Linked DNA regions of Homo sapiens: region 2 is linked to region 1. The links come from fine-mapping of genetic effects on gene expression. A gene starts in region 1. The other region holds a variant in brackets. All regions are shown on one strand. Distances are between the middles of the regions. Region 1 holds the start of HHAT (hedgehog acyltransferase). Region 2 overlaps HHAT (hedgehog acyltransferase).

Region 1 (8,339 bases):
AATTCTGCTATTAAAGGATTCAGATGCATTCTTCAGCATATCAATTGTATTTTTCAGCTCCAGAATTTCGGGCTTAATTCTTTTCAATTATTTCATTTGCTTCATTAAATTTACCTGGTAGGATTCTGAATTCCATCTCATGTTTTCTTGAATTTCATTGAGTTTCTTCAAAAGAGCTATTTTGAATTCTCTGTCTGAAAGGTCACTCTGGGATTGATGCCTTATTTAGTTTGTTTGGTGATGTCATGTTTTCCTGGATGGTCTTGATGCTTGTGAATGTGTGTCAGTGTCTGGGCATTGAAGAGTTAGGTACTTATTGTAGTCTTCACAGGGTGGGCTTGTTTGTATTCATCCTTCTTGGGAAGGCTTTCCAGGTATTCTAAGGGACTTGGGTGTTGTCATTTAGGTTTGGGTCACTGCCATCATATCTGCATTAGAGGGCACCTCAAGCTCAGGAATGCTACGGCTCTTGCAGACTCAGAGGTACCACCTTAGTGGTCTTGCATAAGATCTGAGAGAATCTTTCCCCAGCTGCTGCTGTAGGATGAGGGAGGGGTAGCGTCTGCAATTCAAGACTGTCTTCTCTACGCTTTTCAGTGCCTCTTTCAGTGATATGAAGTTAAAACTTGGTACTGCAATGGCCCACTTGATCTTTGGTTCTTATTAAGGTGTTTTTTGTTGATAGTTGTTCATTTTGTTGTTCTTGAAGGGAGGACAATTGGTGGAAGCTTCTATTTGGCATCTTGCCCCACCTCCCTTAGATTTTGATAAATTTTAAGTTTTCATACTGCCAAATTGCTTACCCAACTAAACATTGTGTGTGAGTGCTATCACATAGCACCCATGCCAGGCTGTAATGTTATTTATTAATTTTTTGCCAACTTAATGTGTGAAAATTGTGTGTTCTTGTTTTTTTTTTTTTTTTTTTTTTTTTTGAGACGGGGTCTTGCTCAGTCACCCAGGCTGGAGTGCAGTGGCACGATCTCGGCTCACTGCAACCTCTGCCTCCCGGGTTCACGCCATTCTCCTGCCTCAGCCTCCCGAGTAGCTGGGACTACAGACACCCGCCACGATGCCTGGCTAATTTTGTTTTTGTATTTTTAGTAGAGACGGGGTTTCACCACGTTAGCCAGGATGGTCTTGATCTCCTGACTTCGTGATCCACCCACCTTGGCCTCCCAAAGTGCTGGGATTACAGGCGTGAGCCACCATGTTCTTGTTTTACTATGCATTTCATTGAGCTTTTTGCAATATATTTTTGTTTCCTACTTTTATTTCCCTCCTCCTTTTTCTAGTGGGTTGTCTATAAATGTGTCTTGCTCATCTATAATTGATTTCTAATGTTTTCTTATTGATTGTATTAACTCTATATATAATTTTAAAATTAACACTTTGCAAATTTCTTGCAAATATCCCAGTCTATTGCTTATCTTTAAATTTTGGCTATTATGGCCAAGCATGGTGGCTCACACCTGTAATCCCAGCACTTTGGGAGGCTGAGGCAGGTGCATCACTTGAGGCCAGGAGTTCGAGACCAGCCTGGCCAACAAGGCAAAACCCTGTCTCTACTAAATAGCCAGGTGTGGTGGCTGGTGCTTGCCTGTAATCCCAGCCACTCAGGTGGCTAAGGCACAAGAATTGCTTGAATCTGCAGTGAGCTGAGATCATGCCACTGTGCTTAGCCTGGGTGACACAGTGAGACTGTCTCTAATACATACATATATATATATATATATATATATATATATATACACACACACATAAATTTTGGCTATTTTTATTTGATGTTTCTGATTGCCTGTGTTTAAATCTGCCTTTATCTCCTTTGTGTTCGCCGGTGAATTTAAAGTGCATATGTAGACAGGGGTTAAGTGTAAATCACACTGAACCTATATTAACAACAGCATCTTTTAGAAATAATATAGGAGCTGTTATCACATCCCTGTCCCTGAGTTTGACACTACCTGAGTTGAGTTCTTATTCTGCCACTCCCTCTGCCAAACCCTTGGATCTAGAGTTGACAGATAAAATACCCAGTTAAGTTTGATTTTCAGATACCCAGGATGTAAATTTGAATTTCAGATATACCATTTTTTTTTTTTTTTTTTGGTAGAGATGGAGTTTCATCATGTTGGCCAGGCTGGTCTCGAACTCCTGGATTCAAGTTATCTACTCACCTCGACCTCCCAAAGTGCTGGGATTACAAGCTTCCTGTAAGTACTTAAAAAAAATAAGTATATCCCAAATATTGCATGGGTCATAGTGATACTAAAAAGTTACATATTGTTCACCTGAAATTATTTACTTATTTTTTTGAGACAGAGTCCGGCTCAGTCACCCAGGTTGGAGTGCAGTGGTGCGATCTGAGCTCACTGCAACCTCTGCCGCCCGGGTTCAAGCGATTCTCGTGCCTCAGCCTCCCAAGTGGCTGGGATTACAGGTGCAGGCCACCACACCCGGCTAATTTTTGTATTTTTAGTAGAGACGGGGTCTCACCATGTTGGCCAGGCTGGTCTCAAACTCCTGGCCTCAAGTGATCCTCCTGCTACCGCTCCTAAAGTGCTGAGATTACAGGCGTGGGCCACCGCGCCCAGCCTGAAATTCAATTTTAATTGAGTATGCTGTATTTTTATTTGCTAAATCTGGCACTCCTATTTGGGGCTAGTTTACTAACACCTGCTTACTGAACACCATCCAGTACCAGGTTTTGGGGTGAGTGGGTTGGGGGGAAGCAGAAAGAAAAGATAGCTCCAGCTCTTGGAGAGTTCATACTCTGGTTTCCTGGAGAATTCTAAAATCATTAAAATAATCCTCTCGACCATTACAATGACTGCTAGATGAAATTTCTGAGAGCACAGCTTCCGAGTTTCCCTGCTGCCTAGGGCAGAGTTATCCACCTTCACCTTATCATAGAACCACCTGAGACGCCCCTGCCATGGACAGTCTGATGCTTTTGGTTTGGGGAGGGATCCAGAAGCCCGAGGTTTTAATGAGAGCCACGTGATTCTGCTGAGATAAGTCTGGAGAACTCTGGCAAGCCTGTCTCTTGGCTCAGGCTTGGAGGCCTCCGAGCAGCAACATCGTCCCAATTATACCCCGTTGGAGCATCTTCAGATCTTCCACTCTTTTCACAACGCAATCAAAATCTTCGTACCCATTTTGCAGTAGTGATCTCTGTAAGTTGCTTTACAATTCATAAAGTTTATTCTATTTGATCTTCACTCTAATTTACAAAGAAAAGCAGGGAAGTCTATTTCTGTTTTACAGAGGTGTACAGGGAGGCTCACAGGGGCTAAGTTCACACAGTAAGCCCTCGAAGCTGCCAGGGCTGCAAAGCCCACCCTCTTTCCACCGCACCGAACTACCTCCTTTCGCCTACAAAACGTAGGTGGGGACCACTGGTGTTGGAATGACGGCCCACCTCGAGTTTCAGGTGACTTCCACTCTGCAATTAACTTGCAGGCAGCCCCAGACCTGCAATGAACACACGGGTGGGGGAGAGATATGCACGCCAGGGTCAGTGGGAACCAACAGCCGAGGGGTGAGCGGGGCTAGGGGCCCCGGGCCGCCGGCGGGGCAAACGCGGTTCAGAAACGCAGGCCGCGCTCTGGCCCGCCCCCTGCAGCAGCACGGCCTGCTCGCCATCGCCCGGAGAGCGCCGCGGGTTCCCGAGTCCGGGCGCGGAGGGCGCGCGGGCACGGCGGCAGGGGCGTGCTCGGAGGACGCGCGCTGCGCTGCTCCTCCAAAGGGCAGCTCCGGGGGAAAGAGGGTGGCGTCCCGGGGAAGCCCGCAGCCGCCGCCGATGTCGCTGGGACTCGGAAGTGCCGAAAGAGGGGTGTTGGGAACTCGCGGCGCGCGTGAACGTTGCCGTCGCCGCCGCCCGGGACAGCCCGGAGGTTGGTAACTGGTGACCATAGGGGGTCCTGGGGAGGTTAGATGCTGAATTTTCTGCGTCAGTTTACTCTGTTAAAAAAAAAATGCACAAAACGCTTTCCGTTTCCTACCCAAGTTCCCGTGTGCGCGCCCGAGGGCGGGACAGAGGAAGTTCCCGGTCGGGCGAAGAAGACAAAAGCGGCGGGGGCCGCGCGCGCAGTGCGCCCGGGCAAAGGCGGGGATCTAGGCGCCGGGACAAGTCCGCGCACGGCCCTGCCCACGTCCTCTCTCCTTGGCTTCGTCCCCAGCTTCCGGAACTGCTGCGGGGAGTTGCGAACTCTGGTCCTCTTGGCAGTATCGGCGGTGCGCCTGCCTGCCTGCTGTGACTCCAGGGACTCTAAAGTTAGAGACTTCCTTTGCGTTCTATCTTCAGGACTCAGTTTTCTTCCTCTGTTCTGAGTCTAACCTTCAGGTGGCAGGTCTTTATGCGGAAAAACCCTCCCGCTAATCCTCACCAGAGGTACTTTACGGGTAGCATTGGTGTTAAGAAATGTGCTGCTACCTGTGTACATTGCTCTTGGATCAGGGTTGTAGGGCTAGGGCATTTGGCATCCTCAGAGGTTTGCATTACGTGGGAGTGAGACATTGCTTCTCTTTCTGTTTTTGTTGTTGTTTGTGTTTTTGAGGCGGAGTTTCGCTCTGGTCGCCCAGGCTGGAGTGCAATGGCACAATCTCAGCTCACTGCAACCTCAGCATCCCGGTTTCAAGCGATTCTCCAGCCTTGCCTCCTGAGTAGCTGGGATTACAGGCATGCGCCACCACGCCCACCTAATTTTGTATTTTTAGTAGAGACGAGGGTCTCACCGTGTTGGCCAGGCTGGTCTCGAATTCCTGACCTCGGGTGATCTGCCCACCTCGACCTCCCAAAGTGCTGGGATTACAGGCGTGAGCCACCGTGCCTGGCATCTCATTCATTCTCAGAGCTAAGGACCTATTTCAATGTGATTAAGTGCTATGGGAATGCAAGGAGAGGAGAGGGAAGGCTTCATTGAAGAGGCGGTAGTTCATTGAAGGAGACTTTGAGGAATGATTTTTTTCCCCTTCCATTCCTCATGTTCCATTTTCCCTGTGATTTTTCTCCCTCCTTTCTCGTTGCCAGTCAGTCCCTAATTGTGATTGTTTGATAAGGACAGCTCTGACCTGAGAGATTCAATTAATGTTAATTTAAGGAGACTGTGTGCTTATTAGGTGCTTTAGATACATTATTTCTAAACCTTACAGTAACTGGGAAAGATAAGTGTTGTTATCTCTTTTCACAGTAGGATAGAGAAAGCCTTGGAGGGGAGCCAAAGCCACAAACTAGTACATGTCAGGGCCGGGTTTTGGACTCCTCTTTTGGATCAACGCCTGTGCTTTATCTACTGTTTACTTTGCCCCCTCCTTGGAAGTAGGTTAGATGGATGAACTTAGGGTGAAAGTCAATTCTTTGGAGGGAGCAGCCGTTTTTGTGGGTGGCCAGATGTTGGTGGGAGCTCTGTAGGTAGCATCAGGAACTTGCGAGCATGGGCCTTACCTGCACCCCCTGCTTCCAGCTTAGGACCTGGCCCAGGGGGAATGTTCCCTAAAGCAGTGGTCCCCAACCTTTTTGGCACCAAGGACCGGTTTCATGGACAATAAGTTTTTCATGGACTGGGGGAAGGGGGATGGTGTTGGGATAATTCAAGCACGTTACATTTATTTTATTTATTTGTTTTGAGACAAGAGTCTCGCTGGGTCACCCAGGCTGGAGTGCAGTGGCACGATACTGGCTCACTGCAACCTCCACCTCTGGGGATCAAGCAATTCTCGTGCCTCAGCCTCCGGAGTAGCTTACAGGCATGCGACACCACATCTGGCTAATTTTTGTATTTTTAGTAGAGACAGGATTTCACCATGTCAACCAGGCTGGTCTCAAATTCCTGAGCTCGAACTCCTGAGCTCAAGCCATCCTCTCCTTGGCCTCCCAAAGTGCTGGGATTACAGGTGTGAATCACCATGCCCCACCTGCATTACATTTATTGTGGACTTTATTTCTATTATTATTACATTGTAATATGAATACAACTCACCATAGAGTAGAATCAGTGGGACCCCTGAGCTTGTTTTTCTGCAACTAGGCAGTCCCATCTGGGGGGGTGTGTTGGTAGACATTGACACCCAAAGTGTGTTTGCTTATGTCCAGCCTACTTCATAGTCTCATTTTGGTTGCTGTCACTGCAGAAGACCCTGCTTCACAAAGATAGGATGTTGGAAATGGAAGCAGGCTTTTCGGTGCTTTTGTGGCAATTTCAGGATACTTTGCCTTGACTTTAATCCAGAATGTATGGATATTTGAAGTTGTCTTAAACATACTTCTAGGGCCCGGTCATTTGCTATCTCAAACAGTTGGTCCTCTTCTAGCATGGACAAAGTCAATTCACCTGGCTTATTCACAAATGGATCTAGGATCCTTCCCAGTTCGGGTGTCTTTTGTAGTTGGGAAGTAATGCTCAAACTCTTTTGAAAGCTGAGATAGGTGATCATGCACCAGCTGGGAGAGAGAAGGCCCTGGCTTAGTCTCTTTCAAAATCTCTGCTAATGTTTGAAACGTGTCAGAAATCCCAGTGTTCACTTGTCGCCGCAATAATTCCAGTTTGGTTTTGAGTGCAGCCACTTATCTGCCGACTTGAACACAGTTCTCCCCTGAAGGGACAGATGGAGTTCATTGAGGAGGTAAGCAAGTAAGCAAGTTTTGTAACCCCTTCTATGAAATGTGCTGCCAGTGGTGACTACTTTTCTAGAAGAAATCTCTGGAGTGGCCCTCATAACTCAAACTCCGGCCAGTGATCTATCTTTAGAAAGCCATCCCACTTCTGTGTATAAAAGATGTGTGTGCTCTATGTCCATCTCACAGAGCTGTGTGAACAGATGTGAGTTAAGGGCATGTACTTTAATGTGGTTGATAATTTTAATCACATCCTGCAAAATGTTCTTAAGTTCAGGTGACATTTTTTGGCTAGCCAACACTTCTCTATGGATGTCACAGTGCATAGACTCACATTCAGAAGTGACCTCTTTGGCCCGAGTAGTGAAACCAGTCGTAGCAGTCGCTCTGCCCAAGCACATACTACCCAAAAGGACCAATTCGGTTTTTCTGATAGGTAATCATTCAAAGACTTGAATAGTTGTGCAGCTGTGGTGTTGGTTAGCAACAAAAGTGCAAGTGACATATCCTCGTGCACCTAACATCTTCATGTATATCCTCCTGAAAACTGTATCACAAAAAAACAAGCATTGTTGCCTTGTCAACACTGGTAGACTAGTCAACCCAGATTGCGTACCGCAGTGACTCATTAATCCTCTCTACCAATTGTGCCTCAATATCCGCTGCTATTTCAATTCGCCTAGTTTACTCTTCACCAATAGTAAAGGGCTTCTTAGCTTTAGCAATACGGTTAGCCACTAAGAATGATACTCTCATTGCAGACACATTTGATGAAATGGTAGCCTTCAATAATTGCTTCTGTTCTTTGTGCTTATGTTTTTTCTTTTGAAAAACTCCGAAGCCTTGTCTTTTAATGCAGGGTGCTTGGTCTCCATGTGGTGAAGCAGTTTTGAAGGTTTCATGGCTTCATTGGATAGCCAGTGGCCACATATTACACAAAGTGGGCTTGGAGAATGTGAGTCACCTGTTGCAATGAACCTGTAATTTGAGTATGACTCCTGGTATTTTCTTTTAAATGCAGCTTGCTTTTTGTTGGCAATCTTACAGTCTTCTGTCTCATCATTGGGTCTTCCCCCTTTTCAAAGAAGCTTACCAGTGATGTTTGTTTTTTACTCATTTCGGCTAGGGTTAGCTTGTGGGCTTACCAAAACTGTGACTGAGACAAATGTGCAGTGCAGGAAACAGGCACACCTGGAAGTGGTAAATAATGGGCGGGCCATGAGTGGACTAAAATAAGTGTCGGATTCTGACTGAAAGCCTGCCCACAGATGCAGCTGTACGATGGAAGTACATCAACTCACTTGCCACTATAAAGCCTGCCACCAGGCAGCATTAAGCTACTTGTTACTTGACACTCACTGATAGGATTTTGATATGAGTCTGCAAGCAATTGATTTATTATGGTCTCTGTGTAGTCAAACCTCCCTCTTAATGCTAATTTGTATTTGCAGCCACTCCCCAGTGCTAGCATCACTTGTAGTCCCAACTACTTGGGAGGCTGAGGAGGAAGGATCACTTGAGCCCAGGAGGTCAAGGCTGCAGTGAGCTATGATCAGGCCACTGCACTCTAGCCTGCATGACAGAGTGAGACCCTGTCTCTTAAAAAATAATAATAAAATGAAAAAACTAAAAAAGCTCCAAATGTATGAGTATATGTACTTCTTTATCAATGCAGTAAGTAACAAAATTCAGTGCAGTAGCAAGTAACTCCTGTAATTTCAAA
Region 2 (8,339 bases), 78 kb after region 1:
AAAATCTTGGGCAGTGTTGGGTATTCTTTCTTCAATCACTGTGGGACTGGAACTCCTGTGGTATCTTTTTATTCATTCATTCAGTCACTCATTCATTGATCCAGGTGACAACACTTAGCATTCATGTGCCCTGCATCAACACAGTGATGGGAAGGAACATGATGGGAAATGTGAGATGGATGACCTGGTTCCTAGTCTATTCTATTCCCCATCTCTTCCTACTCTGAAGCTGGAGCAGTCATTTAACCTCTGAGCCTCAATCTCATCATTTGGAAAACAGAAGTAATAAATCCTCTTCCTTCCTCATGGGATTGTTCTGAGAGTCAAACGGGATAATCTATGTTAAGTGATTTTGTGAAAATTGTAGCATTTTGAAAGTTCAAGTATTTTTTGCTGTTTTTAGTCTACCTTCATTTTTCTCACTCTCATTAATGATGTGGGGCTAGCATTTTAAGCACGTATGTCAAAATCTGGACTTATGAGAGTATATCAGATAATCACTCCGTTTTAATGAAGATACTTCCCAGAATGATTAGGCAACCATTTAGGCAAGTGTGCTTAAAAACAGATTTACAGTAAAAATAAAAACAAGCTCATACCTAACCTTTTGGGGACCTGGCAAGTGTACAAACAGAATCTAATTCCATTTATCATTTATTTGGGGACAATTAGCATCAGTTATAGATGTTGGAGGTGAATAAATGTTCATTTGTTCTGCAAATTTTACAGTGATTTGAAAAACACTGAGGAAGGAGATCATGTGATTAGAAACTAGCTGGGTTTCCATGCTTTTGCACATGTGGTTCTCCTGATATGATTATCCTCTTTTCCCTTGGTGGCTGCTAAAGTCTTGTACAAGAAGTAGAAACTCTGTTCAGTGGTTGGTTTTTCTGTGTACAGCTTTAAGAGACCCTGATGGATCAAGTTAATTACTTTCTCCTTTGACCCAAGTTCTATTTCTCGTATGTATTTCCATAAATAGTTTTTCTCACTAAATGTATTTTTGGAAAACATGGAAAATGTAGAAAAATATAGAAATTAGAAAATACTTCATAATTTTACTCCCCGATATTAACATTTTATTGTATTTCCTTCTCATTTTTTGTTCCATGCATATTTTTGCACAGGTTATTTCTTGTTTCATGCTCTATTGTAATTGCATTTTTACACATCTACGTCCTGTATGAGAATTTAACATATTGAGGGCAGGGACTTTTTTTTTTTTTTTTTAAATATTTGTCTGTAAAGCTTATTAGACAAATGCTACTCAACTAAATGTAGAGCCAAACTGATAACAAAAGAGGAAAACGAAAAATACATTGAAGACAGAAATCCCATGGGACATTTTAAGCCCCTCTTTGTTATCTGAATTGTTGAAGAAGCTGTCAAAGTATCCACTGGATGTAGCTAATCTGCACCTTATGCCCTGGATGTATCTGATACATGCCTAACTGGGAAAACCTTCGTTATGTTGTGTCAGACCTAATGCTAGGTTAACATTAGAGATGTCCTTTTTCCTACTGCTCATTAACTGCTTGCTTTGATTACCAATGAGATTTACCTGGTGTTCATTGGTTCTCGACTGCCTTTTATGGCACAGCTGCTCTGCCTGAAGAAGAAATTGCCTTCCCAGAGCCCCCTGGGATTCTCAGATGACGGTGGCCCTGCTGGCCAGCACCTGCAGTGGGACTGGACGATGTCCCTGCTGGCCACTCAAAGGTTGTTCTCTCCTTTTGATTTTGTAGAGAAGGTGGTACAAGACAGAAAACGAGTACTACCTGCTGCAGTTCACGCTGACCGTTCGCTGCCTGTACTACACCAGCTTCAGCCTGGAGCTCTGCTGGCAGCAGCTGCCTGCTGCATCGACCTCCTACTCCTTTCCCTGGATGCTGGCCTATGTCTTTTATTATCCAGTCTTACACAATGGGCCCATCCTCAGCTTCTCGGAGTTCATCAAACAGGTAGAGCCCGCTGGGGATGGGATTGGGATTCTATAGCTTAAGCCTTTGTCGCTGTTGCTCTGGTCTTCTCTGACTCTTGAGTCGTTTTGTTCAGAGGTGCCCACAGATTTACAACACATACTATTAGTTCTCATGAGGTTTTTTGTAATAGATGAAATACATATGAGAAATGAGCCTTTAAAATAAAGTTTGACCCATCAGATATGTCAGCTCTAGGGGGTCCCACCTTGATTTTCAGTGAACTCTGGCAACCAGGATTAATGAGTAGGGCACAACAAGGAGTTTGGGAGTTGGTATCCACTGTGGCAAAGTCCCAAGGAAAGAAAAAAATTTGATTATGATGCTATTACTTGAAGGAATAGAAAAGGAAACTGTCTAAGCTGTTGCTTGGCAAATAGTATGTTTCCTTTTATATTCACAAGCTGCTTAAGAAATAGTCCTGCCATAGCCTGGGAGCTGTTCAGGGTGACCTAGGTGTGAAAACAGAGTGGAGTTGAAGTAAGTTCGAAGGCAGTGGTGTGTGTTCATGTCTGGATCCCCCTTTGTGCCCAGGCCCCCGCCTGCCTTCCTCGGACGGCATCCTTGTCTGAAATGCCATGTTAAGCTACCTCTGTTGTTCCCCCCTACTTCACTTTTCCCCCTTGTTTAGAACTTTCTTTTTTTTCTGCCTCCTCAACCTACCTCTAGTTTCATGGAACATAATTGCTAAGTTAATTCACCTAAGGAATTAGTAATTGAAAATGCCTAAAACAGTGTTCTCAAGGGATATTCTATCCCTCACCAACAAAACAATCCTCATAGAGGAGAAAATAACATGTACGTGCATACACAGACATGCATGCACACGCAGAACACATACCCACGCATACGCACACACCTGGAAGGGCAGGGCAAGCAGCAGTGTTGCACATTTCTGGGCAGCAACATGAAAGTTGCTCCCTGAAAAAGGAGGGTTCTTAGAAATCTTATTTTGTCCTCAAAGTTCCACTGAATTATGCATTGTATTCAAGAATATATTTTTGCATTATAACAATAACATAATGTTCTAAAATTTCCAGTGAAAGTATGTAACTTTTTATATCTCTAGAAATCTGTAAGTGAAATTGATATTCTAGACAGATATGTTTAGTCTATGGTTTCTCATACCTCGGTTTGGGATCGTTCTTTTGTCATGAAGGAATTTAAAATCTGCATTTGAAATTGTGTTTAAAATTATTGTGTAAAAGAGATGGTTTAATGATGGCAGCTGATCTTCTAACTCAATGATTTGCAAAGTGTGGTTCCTGGACCAGCAGCATCAGTATCGCCAGAGAGCTTGTTAGAAATACAAATTCTCAGGTCCTCTCCAACCTCCTGAATCACAGCCTCTAGGGATAAAGCCCAGGAAGGTGGTTTAACAGGCCCTCCAGGAGGAGGGTGGGAGTAAAGGTAAGGTGGGCACAGCATAGGGTGGGTTCCTCTCTTTTACAATCTCCTTACCTTTGTGAACTTTTGAATTATTCTCAGTTTGCCAGCCAATAACTTTTGGACCAAACATCCACACACAGACACCCCTCTCCTGAGGATGGCTGGTAATTTTCAGAGAAACATAAACTAAATCCATTAGAAGGAAACAGATTATTTTCCTAACTTCCTCCTGTATATAAGCTTTGCCTGTATGCTCTGTACTTTGTTATTATGCAAAATAATTGTTTCTGTTATTTCTCATCTCCTTTTTCTTCTTTTTTTTTTTGAGACAGAGTCTTACTCTGTCACCCAGGCTGGAGTGCAGTGGTGTAATCTCAGCTTACTGCAACCT[C/T]CACCTCCTGGGTTCAAGTGATTCCCGTGTCTGAGCCTCCTGAGTAGCTGGATTACAGGCATGCACCAGCAAGTCCAGCTAATTTTTTGTATTTTTAGTAGAGACCGGGTTTTGCTATGTTTCCCAGGCTTGTCTCTAACTCCTGAGGTCAGGCAATCTGCCCTCAGCCTCCCAAAGTGCTAGGATTACAGGCTTGAGCCTGGCCTCCCTTTTCAAATTGTGCCTTTTAGGGTCTAGTAAGAATATTAGAGGCCTCTAGCAGGGTCCTGTGTCACACAGAGGCACGCTTTAAGATTATCTTCCACCTAAATCCTTAGCCAAGGGTTCTCATTCTCTTGAGTCTCATTCTGGGGAAGTGAAGGGGCAGGTTGCTTCCTGTAGGGGCCAGGTATAGACACTCTGGGTTTTATCCATGTCTTTTCCTTCCCTCTCTCTCTCTTCTTTTTTAACCCCTTCTAAAACAATAGCAATTGCTGACAGCAGGGAACTTGAAAGGGCAAATTAAAACCTCTATGTTTGGGGGAGTATTCATAGAATAGTCATTCTAGAAAAGGATAAATGTTCAGTAAGATATAGGGCAAATTTAAAAAGCCAGGAGGTTTCTGCACTTGCTGAAGGTGGCTGTGGGGAACTTCCCTTCTGTGGGGAAGGGGGCTTTAAAGGGGCAGGGGGTTAAACCAAAAAGCTTATCTTGCAGTGAAAGGGTTCTTTCAGAGAAGCCAAAAAGGAAAAGGCTGGGAGGTGGAGAAAGAAAGCTAGTTGGAAGAACTAGTAAGTAAGATTTGCTCTGAATGAATGCTTGAATGAATGCATGCATGAAATGCCTTCAGCTATAAGGATTGGAAATATTGAAATGCATGGTTCTTAGACTGGCAGGTCAATGCATAAAAATAACGTAGAGCAGGAGAATGACGCTGCACCACCAGGGGGCAGCAGTGCCCCATTGTGGAAACCAACCCCAGCGGGAAATCTTCACCCAGTATCTGCAAACTCCAAAAGATCAAATGACAATGTTAGTTTTAGGCATACACCTGGAGAATGTGTCTTCCACCCAATTTACATACACAAAATGAGGGAGGTATAGAAGCGTTGTCTTCTGCAATGTAAAGCATGTGAAATTTGCATAATTAGTCACGAACAGGTAAAAATTTGCCTCTGTGCCTTAACTTGAAGGCTATTTCTGGTGGCATTTAGAGTTTTAGGAACATGGGCCTGATTTGTTTTTCTCTCACGTTTCTGTGGAACTCGGATACCAAGTCAGCGGTGAGACAGGGATCCTGGGGGACTTAGGGAAGGGAAGGACATGGTGTTTACTTGCTTAGCCTGAAGCCTGGGGCCACTACGTCTTGAAGAGGTTGACTGGTGTGGTGTGGGCACTGGGGAGAAGAGCAGCCTTAGGGTGGTGGGCCAGGGACTCTTCCTTGCTGGGCACTGTGCTCTCCCACCTTAGAGAAGCCAGTGGTCAAATAGGGAATTTGGCATGGAGGTTGAGAGCAAAGGTCCTGGAGCCCACCCTCCAGGGTTTGAATCCCTGCTGTGCTTCGGCTTGAGAGTGCTTGCTGAGTTACTTACCTTACTTATGCCTCAGTCTTCTTATCAGTGAAATGGGAAGAATAATAGTGCCTCCCTCAGGATTGCTGTGAGGATTAAATGATTGTGTATAGGTAATGTGGTTTGACAGGTTAATACTATAAAGTGTTAATTCTTACTCTTATTATTATTTGAGACAGAGTCTGGCTCAGTTGCCCAGGCTGGAGTGCAGTGGCACAACTTTAGCTCATCGCAACCTCCACCTCCTGGTATCAAGTGATTCTTGTGCCTCAGCCTCCCAAGTAGCTGGAATTATAGGCGTGCACCAACGCACCCAGCTGATTTTTGTATTTTTAGTAGAGATGGGGTTTTACCATGTTGGCCAGGCTGGTCTTGAACTCCCGACCTCAGGTGATCCGCCCGCCTCGGCCTCCTAAAGTGCTGGGGTTACAGGTGTGAGCCACCATGCTCGGCCTCTTACTTTTATTATTGTGATGATTGGCCAGAAAGCAAGTGTAATTCTAGGGTAGTTTAGGTCAGAAGTGAGACCCTGGGTATCCAGTCTGGTAGGCAGGCACAGCAGCAGGGGACTCTGGGCCATGGCCATGCTTGGGCTCAGAAGAGGCCAGTGTGCTGGTTCCATCTATTTGAAGAGAGACCCAGGCAGCTGCTGCAGGAAAGGGATGGGGGCAGTCCAAGAGTTGCTGGGACTGGCAAGAGCTGTGCAAGGCAGTCAATGTCCCAGAAGCTTTGTTTAGTACTTGGCATGGGCTCTGGTTCTAGAGAGCACCTGGAATCATGCTAATTGTAATAAAATATACTAGGTGATCATTTAGTCTGAGCCAGGCTTTATACGTTCTAACTTAAAATGTTTGAGATGGTCTCACTCTGACACCCAGGTTGGAGTGCAATGGTGCAATCATAGCTCACTGTAGCTTTGGCCTCCCGAGCTCAAGTGATCCTCCCACCTCAGCCTCCTGAGTAGCTAGGACTATAGGTATGCATCACCACACCTGGCTAATTTTTTAAAAATACTTTTCTAGAGATGAGGTCTTGCTATGTTGCCCAGGCTGGTCTCAAACTCCTGGCCTCAAGTGATTCTCTTGCTTCGGCCTCCCAAAGTGCTGGGATTACAGGCACACACCATTGTGCCTGGCCATTCTAGCTTGTTTAATCCTCACAACCTGTGAGAGAGATACTGTCATGACCACTTTACAGACAGGGAAACAGAGGCAAAGAGAGGCTATTACAATGCAGATAGAGTGAAGGGAATCAAGACATGAGCCTTGTTGCGCTGACTTGGTGTGTGAGAGGAGTTAGAGGGGGATGGAGTGTGGCCTAGTGGACATGAAGGTCTGGAGGCTCAAGCAGGCTGAACCAAGTACCAGCCTTGGTGGCAGCAACACCTGCAGGCCCCACTTGCTGTTCTGGGAGAGCTCACTGGATGTTGCTGGCCTTGGTCTGGATGGCTAGCGGGTGGGAGTAATGTGGGTCTGATTAGGGAATGATTTGTTAGGAGTAGGGGTATGGTCTGTGACCAGTATAAAGGAATACAACAACTGCCACAAGGCCTCCTAGACCCAAGCAGAGAGAAGCTAATAAGTTAGTGGCCCAGGTGGCCCAGTTGAATATCTGCCTCTGGGGAGGGCTTTTGTTTGGTGCTCACAAACATATGTATTATTCGTGTATGAAGAAAAAGAACCTTTCATCTTTGAGAACTGTCATCTTTAATCATCAGAATATATTTGGGAGAAAGAGAAAGGCATAGCTATTCCTTTTTATGCAATTTGCATGAAATTAGGTTTTAAAGTATAATGCATTTTGAAATGCACTTTGCAGATGAGTTAATGTGTATTTTTTAGTGATGCCTGAACTTCACAATTTCCATGGTGGCAGTTTCCAGTGGTCTAAAGGTTTGGCAGTCCCCTAGGTTTGAAATGTCTTAAATGAAATACTTTGCATGCAGGCAAGAGAGCCGCCCTGCACATTAGATGAGCTATATATGGTCTGTCTGTTCTTCCTGCTGGGTTGACAAGGGACAAATTTTGGATTTTTTTTTTTTTGAGACAGAGTCTGGCTCTGTCGCCCAGGATGGAGTGCAGTGCTGCGATCTTGGCTCACTGCAACCTCCACCTCCCGGGTTCACGTCATTCTCCTGCCTCAGCCTCCCGAGTAGCTGGGCCTACAGGTGCCAGCCACCACGCCCAGCTAATTTTTTTGTATTTTTTTTAGTAGAGACGAGGTTTCATCGTGTTAGCCAGAATGGTCTCGATCTCCTGACCTTGTGATCCACCCGCCTTGGCCTCCCAAAGTGCTGGGATTGCAGGCGTGAGCCACCATGCCTGGCCGGATTTTTTAAACAAAAGACAGTCAACTAGATTGCAGATGTAAATGGACTGTAATAATGATATGACCCTAAAGAAAGATGAAAAACCTTTTGTTTTTTTTTTTTTAAGTAAAAGCAAATAGAATGAAAGTTGGATTGTTTTTCTTTTGCTGTGTTGTTTATTTGTAAATTTTTTTTTTTTTTTTTTTTTTAAGATAGAGTCTCACTCTTCACCCAGGCTAGAGTGCAGTGGCACGATCTTGGCTCACTGCAACCTCCACCTCCCAGGTTCAAGCGATTCTCCTGCCTCAGCCTCCCGAGTAGCTGGGATTACAGGCACCTGCCACCACGCCCAGCTAATTTTGTATTTTTAGTAGAGACAGGGTTTGACCCTGTTGGCCAGGCTAGTCTTGAACTCCTGACCTCAAGTGATCCGCCCGCCTTGGCCTCCCTAAGTGCTGGGATTACACGCATGAGCCACCATGCCTGGCTTATTTGTGCAATTAATAAACATTTCTGTTGCTTGGAGCAGGGAGGCAGTCAGCACCAGAAAAGGAGTGTTGCAGAGAAAAGTCTAGTCCTTTTGGTCCTGTAGTGACATGTAATTATGCCTTATTATACCTGGTAGGGAAGTTTTAGCTTGTGAAAAGTAGGTAAGTCATTATTAAGAAGCCAATGCATGACAAAATGTACCTCATGATTTTTCTTAATTACAGATATTTGT

What was found. PIP is the estimated chance that this variant, and not a neighbour inherited with it, causes the effect.
Region 2: its variant is fine-mapped to the expression of HHAT in whole blood (INTERVAL, PIP above 0.99).

The regions. Positions count from the first base shown.
Region 1 is chr1:210,325,209-210,333,547 of GRCh38, forward strand. HHAT (hedgehog acyltransferase) reads left to right here and starts at 3,694. Exons shown (of 12, transcript NM_018194.6): 1 at 3,694-3,896. RefSeq lists enhancers at 2,867-3,036, 3,911-4,270, 5,383-5,552 and a silencer at 3,501-3,750.
Region 2 is chr1:210,402,719-210,411,057 of GRCh38, forward strand. HHAT (hedgehog acyltransferase) reads left to right here. Exons shown (of 12, transcript NM_018194.6): 6 at 1,746-1,961. Among named protein-coding and RNA genes, the nearest start is that of HHAT, 78 kb to the left of the region's middle. The variant C/T (reference allele first, on the strand shown) is at 3,760.